2 separate regions of the Homo sapiens genome follow, and region 2 is linked to region 1. A link means that fine-mapping ties the variant in region 1 to the expression of a gene that starts in the linked region. Tissue or cell type: testis. Region 1 holds a variant in brackets; the other region holds the start of a gene. All regions are shown on one strand. Distances are between the middles of the regions.

Region 1 (8,453 bases):
GGAGAATCCCCACGGTTCAGTCCTCCCCCTCCCCACCCTTCCTGCACCAGCAGGTAAGGCAGCAAGTTCAGCTGCCCTCCCTCTTGCCCTCCCCCGAGGGTGGTCCCAGCACAGCTGTGCAGGATACAGACAGCAGAGGTGGTGGCGATGGCCAGGATGGTGCCAGTGGGGATTGACTTCTGGGCATCCCTCAGGTCCCCAGAGCGGTTAGAACCAGCCATGATCCCTGCAAAACAGAAGTGCAGCTAGGACTCAAGCCAGGGCCACAGGAGACCAGACAGATGAGAAAAAAGGGCACCACCCTCAGGGTCAGTGAGTCTGGGATCTAGTCCTAACATACTGGCTTGTGTGAGACCTTGGACATGTTACTTAGCTTCTCCTGGCCTTAATTCCCTCATCTCTCCAATGGGAAGTGAAATGTTACGGTTGCTTTCATGATGGGGTTTTTGGACTAAGAAATTCCCAACATCATCATCGACTCTCTCTTCCCCATCCACTCACAGGCAGAGTCTTCCCTCTCTGAGCTCCCCTTCACCTGTGACTGAGGGGAAGTAGATGCCAACCAGCAGGGTGAAGTAGGAGGTCATATCACTGAAGACATAAGGGTGGTCCATGTCGATAGGAGTGCCATCGGCCAGGCCCACCGAGGTCATCCCACTCCTCTCCACAATCACGCCCTTGGTCAGGTAGGAGCTCCAGAGGTTCTCTGTGGGGAGACAGAATGCTCAGGGGGAGGCCAGCCATAAGGGGACCAGAGCTCTGGGACCAGGAGGTGGGAGGGGGCAAAAAGTCAGGGTCAAGATCAACCCCATCTCACTCTCCCCGGCCTTATCTCTATTTCATTTCCACTGACATTTCCTAAGCTCCTGATTTGGGCCAGGCTATGTACAGACCTTTCACAGACTAATCAGACCCAGTCACTACCATCAAACAGTCCAATCTAGTGGAGTAAATGAGCAAATAAAGACCCATCTCAGATTGAGTCGATGTGTCCCAAATTGATCTCACCCTCCACCCACCCCAAACCAGCTCCTTTCCTGCATCCCATATTTCAGTAAATGGCACCATCATCAATTCTGACACCCTGCCCTACACTGCTCCCTCTCCCCTTCCCCAACTTCAATACCACCTCCAACTTCTGTCCTTTAACCCCTCCTTAATATTTCTTAAATATGCCCCTTCTCTCCATTCCAAGGTCTCTCCACTGTGGCACTAGTGACACTCCCGGCCAGATAATTCTTTGCTGTGGAGGACTGTCCTATAGCATTGTAGGATGTTTAGCAGCATCGTGGCCTCTACCTACTAGATGCCAGGTACACCCCTCCAGTTTTGACAACCAAAAACGTCTGCAGACACAGCCAAATGTTTACTGGGTGGCAAAACAGCCCTGGTTGAGAAGCACTGCAGTAATTCCCACAGACATCATTCCATCACTCTCACTCAGAAAACCACCATCTCTCTCTCCTGGACTCATAGCCTCAGCCCCTTCCTGGGCCCCCTGCCTCTCTCCTCTCACCCCTTTAACCCATCCACATTAGCAGCCAGAATGAACCTTCAAAAAATGGAGATCTGACCACGTCCCTCCCTTTCCCAAAACCCCTTGGTGGCTCCTCATTGCCTTCAGAATGTGGTCCCAACTCTCCAAAATGGCTTCCAAGGCCTGCCATGATCTGGCTCATGCCAGCCTCTCCTACATCGCTTCTTTCTCCACCTTATTTTGCTCTTTATGCCCCAGTCATACCAAATTACTTGTGATTGGAAAGACACAATAAACTCTTCTGCCTCTGCCTGCTTTTAGGCAAGCTGTTCTTCTGGTTGCAATTTCCTTACTCCTCTCATAGAATTGAAGATCTTTCATTTGTCCTTCAAAACCCTCCTCAGTTGAGTCCAGGAAGCCTATTGCCATCTTATACACATGAACTCTCCCCCCCCGGGCATTCTCTGTGCATTGAATGCACATCTACATATGGCATAATGTATTTGCTATTACATCTATTTCTGCCATTAGTCTCCTTGAGGCCAGGAACTGTGGCTTATTTATTTTGTGTTCCTAGCACTCAGCACAATGCTGGGCACTCTGTAGGTGCTCAGTGACCACCTGTTACGTTGATGACTTCTTTTCCTACTAGCGGTGAGATACTTGTCTCCTTTTCACCTTACTCCTCCCTGATGCCAAGGACAGAATGTAACTCAGAGTAGGTGCTCAATTAAAGCTGATTGAATTTAGCTGAATCCCAAGGAGGGCCCCTTAATCCTGACCGCTTAACCTACAATCCCTGCAGCGTTCCCTGGATGCCAGCCCTTGTCCCTCCGCAGACCTTTGATGAGGCCACTGGCAGCACCAGGGATGCCCTGGATCTCTGTGACATTGTTTCGGGTGAAGTATTCATCACAGGTGGCGTTGAGGAAGCGAGAGGAGCAGAAAAGGCCCCATAGCCGTGTGGTCACCGTCTCATTTCCTTCCCAAGCCAGCTTGGCACAGACATCAAAGCCATGGCGAGACAGCGTGCGGTTACCCAGGAGGCAGATCCTAGGGAGAGAAACAAGGGAGGAAGGTGGGGAGCCACATAACCTTGCCCTCGCTGCACAATACAGCCACCGGGAGACCTTTTAAACACACGGACGCCAGGTCCCCATATCCAGAGTTCCTCGTTTAATTTAAATGAAGCCTGGCCATTGGCTTTTTTTTTTTTTTCTTAAGCTCCCCAAGTGATTCTAATAAGCAGCCAAGGTGGAGAAGCACCGCATTAGTGCAATGCTGTGTTTCAGCACCGTGGACAGCGGTCTCGGGGGCCGCCCTCCACCTCTGAGCAGTGGATGGAGTGGACTTGGATCTGAGTCCCTGGACCCTGTAGACTTCTGTGTCTTTTCCCATCCTGGAGGAGTTGTCCAACACTAGGAGATTGTCCCATTCCAGGAGGTTGTCCCCACCCAGGAAAGGTTTCCCTACCACAGACAGCATTCATTGCTTTGGAACTCATTCCCACTTAATTCTTCCTAAGTCCACCCTACCAGCAAGAAGTTGACTCTTACAAGGTAAATTGTTCCCTCCTCCAGAAAAGTTACCTCACTCTGAAGAGATTGCCCCCAAACTAAGAGAGATTTTCCCTCCCAAGGGAAGCTACTCCCAACCCACACCACTCTGAGATTCTGAGGGGCAGGGAGGGGGAGTTTGGCAGAGACTCTGAAACAGGGCCAGGGAGGTAGGAGGACGATTCCTTGGGCTCAGAGCAGCAGCACTCACGGGAAGTTGGGTGGGTCGAAGGCAGACTTGATGACCCCAGCATAGATGGCCAGGATGGAGAGGATGACACAACCCAGGAAGACAAGGGCAAACTTGTTGACATACTTGACACCCACAAACACCACAGTGGCCATGCAGGTGAGCACACAGGTGCCGTAAACACGCATGTTGTTCAGCATGGCTGCTGCCTCCCCACTGGCATCTTCTGCCTTGAAGATGGCCATGGCTGGGAAGAGGTAAGCCTGTGGGAAAGGGGCAGGAAGAACAGATACCTAAGTCAGCAGCCCTTTGCACTACATGCAGCGCTTTAGGAAAAAAGATGCTCATCACAGCACAGTCACAGTGGTACCAGACTGGAAAAGACATCCAGTAATAGGAGAATCGCTAAAGAAGGCATGGCCTGTCCTGCAAGGACTATGATGCAGCCATTTAAAAATGACATTATAAGGCCAGGCATGGTGGCTCACACCTGTGATCCCAGTGTTTTGAGAGGCCAAGGTGGGAGGATCACTTGAAGCCAGGATTTCAATACCAGCCTAGGCAACATAATGTGACCCCATCTCAAAAACAAATAAAAATACATTTTTTAAAAAATGACATTGCAAGGATGCTGGAAGCAATTACTTCTGTTATTTTTGTTAATTATAATTCTTAATAATTATTTATCATTTTAATAATTTCTAATAGAAAGGTGGAAATAAATGTTCATCACTCGAGGTTGGGTGAATAAATCATGATATCCCCACAGACTATGGAGCTATTAAAAAAGATGATGTAGTTGGTTTTTTATTGTTGTTGTTGGTTTTTTATTGTGGTGGTGGTTTTTTTGTTTTTTTTTTGAAATAAAGTTTTGTTCTTGTTGCCCAGGCTGGAGTGCAGTGGCACGATCTTGGCTCACTGCAACCTCCACCTCCTGGGTTCAAGTGATTCTCCTGCCTCAGCCTCCCGAGTAGCTGGGATTAGAGGTGCCCACCACCACCCCTGGCTAATTTTTGTATTTTTAGTAGAGACGGGGTTTCACCGTATCAGTCAGGCTGGTCTC[G/A]AACTCCTGACCTCAGGTGATCCAACTGCCTCGGCCTCCCAAAGTTCTGGGATTACAGGCATGAGCCACTGTGCCCGGCCAGATGACATAGATTTATATGGACTGACTTTAAAAGCTATCCATGGTACATTAGGTGAACACAATCAGGTTTTTGAAAAAGAATATGTCTCATTATCTCATTTTTATAAATGTGTATGTGAAGATATATACGTATATTAGTATACGTCTGTATGTGTTTTCATAAGTACATCAAAATGTTGTCAGTAGTTTTCCCTGAATCGTAAAAAATGTGGATAATCTATTCTTTATGCACATCTGTATTTTCTAAAATTCCCATGCTAAATATTAACGTTTACATTCTTCCAAGAGTTATTTTCACTGCAAATAATATATACAAAGAGAATATGAGTTGCTTAGGTATAGGGTTATATTTTACATAGACAGAATACAATACCACATAGAAAAACAAAAACTAGAAGGCAATACACCAAAATGTTAATGGTTATTTTCTTTGGGTGACTTATTTCCTTCTTTACATTTTTTCATGACTTGGATATTCCCCCAATTTTCTGCAATGGGCAGAATTGCATTTACAACAATTTTCAAATATTTTAATTTTTAGAAGTCATGGAGGTCTATTCTCCCTCATCATTTGCCTCCTCAGGCCTTTCATGCCCCATCCATCCTCCCTGTCCTACCCTCTTCCATCCTGCCGTGACACTAATTGCTGTGACACCTTCTAGTTCTAGGTTTCCAAGGCAGTGTGGTATAGAGGACACGTAAATGTATCAAGAAGTAGGCGTTTGGTGAATATTTGATTTTTTAGAGAGAATGGGAAGAATTCAGTTACAATGCTGTTTGTGACATGTAATCTCATTTTTTGTGAGTCTGGACCTACCATATGTTAACTATTGTAAGATTATAGGTGAATTTTATTTTCTTCTCTACCCTTATCATTTTCATCAATGAAGCTGCATCACTTGTGTAAGGCTCTGGAAGTCAGAAAGACCAAGGTTCATATTCCTTCCATTCGTTCCTTAAACTCTGAGCCTTGCTTTCCTCATCTGTAAAATGGCCACCTTTTAGCCAGGTGCAGTGGCTCACGCCTGTCATCCCAACACTTTGGGAGGCTGAGGTGGGAGGATCATTTTAAACTCAGGAGTTTGAGACCAGCCTGAGCAACATAGTGAGACCCCTATCTACAAAAAAATACAAAAATTAGCTGGGCATGGTGGTGCTTACCAGCTACTTGGGAGGCTGAACTGGTGGGGGGGATCATTTGAACCTGGGAAGTCGAGGCTGTCAGTGACTGCACCACTGCCCTCCAGCCTGGGCAACAGAGTGAGACTCTGTCTCAAAAGAAATAAAAAATAAAATAAAATAAAATGGCCACCTTTAACTCATGAGAGAGTCATGACGATAAAATAAAATGATATACTTCAAGCCTTGGGGCCTGCACAGAGTAGGGGCTTGGGACATGTCAGCTCTACTTCCTATCCACCAGGGACACCTCTTCAGCACCCATGCCCTACAGGAAGGGGATGAAGGATGGAGACCTAAGTCACCAGTCCTGACTTCAAGCACTGCCCAGCAACCTGGTTTCTCTCCATCAGTCACTATTCCCAACAGATGTCTTTATACGGATCCCTCCCCTGGTTCTTCTCTTTTGCAATCCAATAGCCACCAGCCATCTACCATTAACATCATAGAGTACCTAGCACAGTCCATGCCCCTTGGGAGGCAATCACACAATGGTAGCTGCTGCATAACATTACTGTTTTTATTTCTACCATATTTTAACTCATCAACCCACCTCTGCCGCCTATCTGAGAGCTGAGTGACCTTGAGGAAGTTATCTCACCTCTCTGAGCTTCTCATTTGTAAAATGGGCATCATAATACTTAAACCTCGTAAGGATACAAGAGAATGGCTGGAAAGCACTTGGAAGGATGCTGAGAGCTCAGTGGGGGCCTGATAAACGACAGCTGTGTATGTTACATAATTATTGTATCTTGTCTCCCCAACTAGACTGTGAACTCTTTAGAAACAGAACCACATCTGACTTTGGCCTTACTGAACCACATTTTTGGCCTCACTGAATGGCCTGGCCTATAGGAGGTGTCCAGGGAGCACTGATTAACTGACTGACAACCTGGGGTTCCACACCTCCTCCTCAGCCTCTCTTACCAGCAGGATTTCGATGGTGCCCAGGATGTACATGGCTCCTGCAAAGGTAGTGCCCAGGTAGAAGCAGAGGCCCACGGCACCCCCAAACTCTGGGCCCAGAGACCTGGAAATCATGTAGTAGGAGCCACCAGCTGCAGGGAGAATCTGGTATCAGCGAGAGGGTCGGGGGCACTGGGCTGCCGTAAGGGGTGAGGGGTGTTCAGTGACAGAGGCAGAAGGGGGTTGCTCCAGGCCTCACAGGCTTATGGGCTGCAGCCCTAGAAAGGGGACTGGTGAGAGACCCAAGCAACCACTCTGCATGGATTTTGCAGCACTAATTACCATGTTGCTAATTACCCCTTTAAGGAGGTCATGGCTCAGAAAATTGGATGGTGGAGAGGAGGGTCTCAGGATGAGTTGGGGGAGGGCTGCCCTATTCAACACCGAGAGCTGCCTCCTCCTCTGCCCCCAATAGGGCTGAAAACAGATACAGCCCAGCCCCCTAGTCTAGAATATTATCTCTCTTGGGCCTTGATGTCCCCCAAAGCCCAGGGCACTATCCCTCCTTCCACCCAGCCATCCTCCCTCCCCACAAAGCCCCAGTCACCTACCAGGCACAACACCATTCGTTGCAATTGCACTCATGGAGATGGCCGTGAGCATCGTCTGTGAGGAAAGAGATCATCAGAGCGGTGGCTGGGGTAGGGGCCGCAGTGGCCTGGGTGGGGGCCAAGCCTTATACCCCATAAACACCAGCCAAACCCACAGGTTCTCTTCTGCTGAGCTGCTCCCTGGACCTGTTCCAACTTCTACTCCTGCCAAGTCCTTCTTCTCAAGAAAACCTTATTCACCATGCGAACGGAAGGAGCCCAAGCAAGCCACAGCATCAGAGAGCTCTGGAAATCCCAGCCTGGTCTCAGACCAGCTGCCTGACCTGAGACAACTCACTTCACTTCTCCAAGCCTCAGTTTCTCCATCTATAGAATAGGAGTAACAGCTCCGACACTGCGTACCTCACATGCAGAGCTGTCTCAAGGTTATGTACGAGGACATGTAAATATATCAAGAAGTAGGTGTTTGGCGAATATTTGATTTTTTTAGAGAGAATGGGAAGAATTTGGTTACAATGCTGTTTGTGACATGTAATCTCATTTTTGTGAGTCTGGACCTGCCAAAATGTTAACTATTGTAAGATTATAGGTGAATTTTATTTTCTTCCCTACCCTTATCATTTCCATCAATGAGCTGCATCACTTGTGTAATTACACACAGAGAGATCCAGGTGAAACCTGGTTAACAGCCATCAAGGACAAGCCTGTGAGATGCAGGAAGGACCAGTCAGGCCTAATTTACTCTCAAAGATCATAAGCAGTGGTTCCTATAAAAAGCTCAGGTCTCATGCTTCCATCCTCCCACCTCCCACCCCCAGGCCTCTGCCAAGCCCCAGCTGTCAGGGGGTGGTGAGGGGAGGGGTGTCACTCACACAGGAGCAGCAGATGAACACCATGCAGAAGGACTCCATGATGCCTGCAATGCCCACCACCCAGGTGAGCCGCAGGAAGAGGATGACGCCAAAGATGTTCTGCAGGCACGGCAGGTACACGCCCATGAAGGTGCCCATGCGTGGGGCCTGCCAGGGAGGCCAGCATCAGTCTCTGCAGTCCTCATCATTACGAACACCCCAGGTGTGCTCCTCCTCCATGTTTCTCTGCCCCCACCTTCCTCTTCTCTCTATTCTCAACCCTTCATCCCTCTTCTTTCTGATTTGTATCCCCTTTCCCTCCCTCCATTCAAATCCATTTTCCTCCCCCATCCTCCCCCACCCCCCATCCGTCCCTTTTCTTCCATTTCTCATCCCCCGAGGTCCTCACCTGCACCGGCTTCTTTTTTCCACCCTCATTGTTTTCTGCCTCTTCATGCTCCCTACTTCCCTGGGGCAGGTTGGTGTAGTTGGCCAGGCCACTGAGCAAGGAGGACACCATAGGGCTGGTGTCCATCTCC
Region 2 (4,215 bases), 30 kb after region 1:
AAATTGGGCCCAGAGTGCGGGAGGGTGAATTGCAGGCCACACAGCACTAGTGGCAGAGCTGGAATTAGAACCCAGGACCATCAAGGGTGGTGGGCGCCCCCAGCCCTCGGCGAGCCCCCTCACTCACTCTCGCTGGGGCAGAAGCCAAACCGGTCGTCGGTGTCGTAGTTGGCCGTGGTACTGCACCAGGGCAAGCCGTCGGAGCGACCGTCGGTGGTGCAGGCAGAGTAGGAGCGGCCCTCGAAGATGAAGGGGAAGTGGCAGGCCGCGCCATCTGCGTTTCCAAACCGAGTTGGAACCACTGCAGGAGGAGGGGGGACCGGAGTTAGGGCGGCGGGTGATGAGTGGGAGAGAATGAAGGGAATCAGGGGCCAGGAGGACTCAGAATCTCACCGACGCCCTTGCCCAGGGACCACAACTCGTCATCGTCGAAATGGGCGTCTCCCTGAATGCCGGGGCCAGGAGGAAAGGCGTGTGCCAGGAGCCCGTCCTTCCCGTCGAAGGGATACCCGTCTCCGTGCTCTGAAGAAACAGGTCGAGAGGAAGAGGGTTAGCCGAGTACTGCTGCGCAGATTGTGCGCTGCCCAAGGCAAGGGCTCCGAAATAAGTGCGGGCTGAAATCCCGCCTGCGCGAAGCTCTCCCAGCCTGGCGCCCTGGCCCTGTGCACTGTCTGGCAGGAGGGGCCGTATAAGCCAGGGCAGCGCGGGCAGGCAAGAGGAAGCCGGGGCCACTGCTGCCTCCACGCTCTCCGTGGTCCTCCCTTCCCTGACCCCGCCCAGGTCTCTTGGATTTTCCCTCCTCACGTTCTCACCCGCGACACCAAACTGGATGACGATGTCTGCGTCCCGGCTGTACACGCGAGTGAAGGTGAGCGGCGTCACCGCGCTCCACAGTGCGAAGGCGCGGGCAAAGGCGTCGTCAATCACCGCCCGCGGCAAGTCTTCCGAGTAGTTTTGGATCCTGTAGCGTAAGAGCCAGAGGAAGGAGGTCAGAAGTGAAAGGCTGGAGCGGGGCAGCAGGGACACCCCATATCGCAGAGACTTCAACATACACAATGCTCTCTGCCGTCCACGCTCTCATCTATAAATTGCTTCCAGACTGTTTTTTTTTTTTTTTTTTTTGTCTACTTAGACCCTCACAATGGCCCTGGCAGGAGGACTTGGATTGCAAGAGCCATTTCCCTGAAGGAGAAACAGAGGCTCAGAGGTGGGGACACTCCCCAGGGGCCACACATTAAATAGTGAAACCCAGGGACGCGTCCAAGACAGGACATGTTCACCGCTGGCCCAAGAGCCAGACCTGGCCTCCCCGCCCCACCCCGCTGCCCCCACGGCCCCGGCTCACCAATAGGTGATGTTGTGGTGGTGCCACTTGAGGTCGCCCTCAAAGGTTTGGAATCTGCCCAGGTCTGGGACCCCGCACCGTGGGGTTCGCATGGCCTTCAGCGTGGCGCTATCCAGCTCACCGGTCTCGGGCAGGGACAGTTGCTTCTGGAGAAGCAGCAGCGCAGGCCCCAGAGATTTCGACTCTCCACGCATCTCTGCCACCCGAGTGTAACCATAGCGGTACAGGTATTCCTGTGGATGAAGGGACACACACATGCCAGATCTCTGACCCCTTTCTCTGCCCAGCTGGGGCCAAAGGACTCCCTCCAGACACTCATGGAGGGAGTCTTTTTTCTTTTTCTTTTTCGGAGAGACGGTATCAGCCCACTGCAGCCTGGACCTCCTGGACTCAAGCGATCCTCCCATCTCAGCCTTCTGCATAGCTGGAACTACAGGTGCACATCACTGTGCCTGGCTATTTCTTTAATTTTTTTGTAGAGACAGGATCTTACTATGTTGCCTAGGCTGGGCTCAAACTCCTGAGCTTCAGCGATCCTACCACCTCAGCCTCCCAAAGTGCTGGGATTACAAGTGTGAGCCGTCATGCCCAGCAGGGACTAACATTTAATAAAGCATTAAATGCTTTCCAGACACCAGTGCTTTCTGACCACCCAGGGATCTCCCCTCCTTAGACATCCTCAGCTCCTTCTCACCCCTGGATGCCTCTAGCCCATTTCTACCCCACAGCTGCATAAGGTTTGCCCCTGTTCACTCCCAGCCTATGCTTACCCCAGAACCCTCCAATGCCTCCCCCACCCCAAACCATTTCCCATTTCCCACCTAGGAAAGCCCCATTGCCCATTTCTGGCCATCACTGCTCAAAGCCTCCACAAGACCCCCCACTGCCTAACCCTGGACACCTCTGTTCTTCAGATACGCCCATCACCACCAACACACCCCTAAAGCATCTCCTCTGAGGCCCTGCATCCTCTCTGGGACACTCAACACCCTCACGGACAGCCCTCCCCAACTCTAGACTAGGTGTTTGCCCACCTCTGCCAGCTGCCTGTCGGTGAGATTGGTTCTCAGGTCTCCAGGGAAGAGCACAAGGGTGGACTGGCGCTGTCTGGGGGCAGCAAAGCAGCAGCCCAGCACCAGGAGCACCAGGACCAGGGGCTGCCAGAGGCTCATGGTGAGGGCAGAGGTGTCTGACTGCAGCTGCTGTTGTGGGGGCTTTAAGGAGGCGCTCCTGTGACCCCACCCCTCCTTGACAGGCAAGTGCTGACTCAGGGGTCAGGGTGTGTGTGTGTGTGTGTGTGTGTGTGTGTGTGTGTGTGTGTGTGTGGCAGCACCAGCATGAGAAAGGGCTTACACCACCTCCTCCTCTCTCCACTGCCCGCAGTCTCCACTGCCAAGTCAGGCAAGACCCCAGACCCGCAGGAAACCGCAGGCCCTCAGGGGAGGGGTAGGGTTTTGCAAACTGCAGAGCTTGTGGGAACTGTATGAAAGGGAGGGAGGGGGATGAAGCTGGAGGGATCCCCCATCCCTTGGTCTGAAAGCCTCCAGTGGTCAGCCAAGGGAAAGTGATGGAAGACTCCCTGAGACTTCTTTCTGAAACTAATGATCCCCCTGGCCCATCCTTGGCCTTTTGCAACACCCCCTCCCAGGTCAGATATCCTCCCCAAACCCCTCCCCACACTCCAGGCTCTGTCCTCTTTTTCCCTCCCTGACAGCCTTCTTTGACTCAGCTTCCTCTCCCTGCTTCATCTGGGGGCGGAAGGAATGGGCTCTGCTAGGCAAGGCTGGGGAATTCCACTGGGGCAACCCCCTGTCTTCCGCAGGCTGAATCTTCAGGGCAGTAAAGGGGACAGTAGCAGCCTCTAGAAAACAGCAGACATGGCTTTACTCTCTTCCTTCAGGACCTCGGGCAAATGTCTTACCACTTTGAAGTGTTTCCTCAGCTGTAAAAAAAAAAACGGGGGGTGGGGGGCTCTTTGTCCCTAAATTGATGTGAGGATTAAATGAGATCAAACATATAAAATGTTTAGAACACTGTAGGTTGTAAGTCCGCAACGGATGGTGGTGATTGGTTTTAATTACTAAGGCCAAGACCCAAGATTCAGGGCCAGGTATGGTGGCTCATTCCTGTAATCTTAGCACTTTGGGAGGCCGAGGTGGGAGGATTGCTTGAGCCCAGAAAGAAGGTCAAGGATACAGTGAGCCATGATTATGTCACTGCACTCCAGCCTGGGCAACAGAGCGAGACCCTGCCAAAAGACCATGATTCTAACTTGGAATCACCAAACCAGGTTATTGGGCTCTAAGCTGCAGTGTAACCTGGAGTAAATGCCTTCCCCTTTGTCAGCTTAGGATTCTTCAACTGCAAATTGGGGCAGGATATGGGGGAAAATAATCTATAGGAGCCCTTTCAGTTCTCCAGCCCTGCTCCATGCAGCCAAATCTCCAGCCCCAATTATCACACTTATGCCAAGCCTCCCTCCCAAGCCTCCCACACCAGCAGCCTCCCTCACTCCTTTCTTCCTAGCCAGCCGGCATCGGGCAGGGTCTATATTCACCTTCTTCAAAGCCCTATTTGGGAAAAACCTGCTAACAACTCAAAAAGTTGTATTTATTTATTTTATTTTATTTTTGGGGGGTGTAGTATCACTCTGTCACCCAGGCTGGAGTGCAGTGGCGTGATCTCGGCTCACTGCAACATCTGCCTCCCGGGTTCAAGCAATTCTCCTGCCTCAGCCTCCCGAGTAGCTGGTATTATAGGCGTGCGCCACCACGCCTGGCTAAATTTTTTGTATTTTTAGTAGAGATGGGGTTTCACTACGTTGACCAGGCTGGTTTCGAACTTCTGACTCAAGTGATCTGCCCACCTGG

The links. PIP is the estimated chance that this variant, and not a neighbour inherited with it, causes the effect.
Region 2: MMP9 starts here. The variant in region 1 is fine-mapped to the expression of MMP9 in testis (GTEx, PIP 0.97).

The regions. Positions count from the first base shown.
Region 1 is chr20:46,035,406-46,043,858 of GRCh38, reverse strand. SLC12A5 (solute carrier family 12 member 5) reads right to left here. Exons shown (of 26, transcript NM_020708.5): 3 at 8,324-8,453; 4 at 7,936-8,082; 5 at 7,064-7,118; 6 at 6,474-6,604; 7 at 3,245-3,486; 8 at 2,319-2,530; 9 at 536-706; 10 at 128-226. Among named protein-coding and RNA genes, the nearest start is that of SLC12A5, 10 kb to the right of the region's middle. RefSeq lists silencers at 2,672-2,872, 2,655-2,949. The variant G/A (reference allele first, on the strand shown) is at 4,287.
Region 2 is chr20:46,007,229-46,011,443 of GRCh38, reverse strand. MMP9 (matrix metallopeptidase 9) reads right to left here and starts at 2,536. Exons shown (of 13, transcript NM_004994.3): 1 at 2,380-2,536; 2 at 1,346-1,578; 3 at 813-961; 4 at 394-522; 5 at 128-301. The coding sequence starts at 2,517.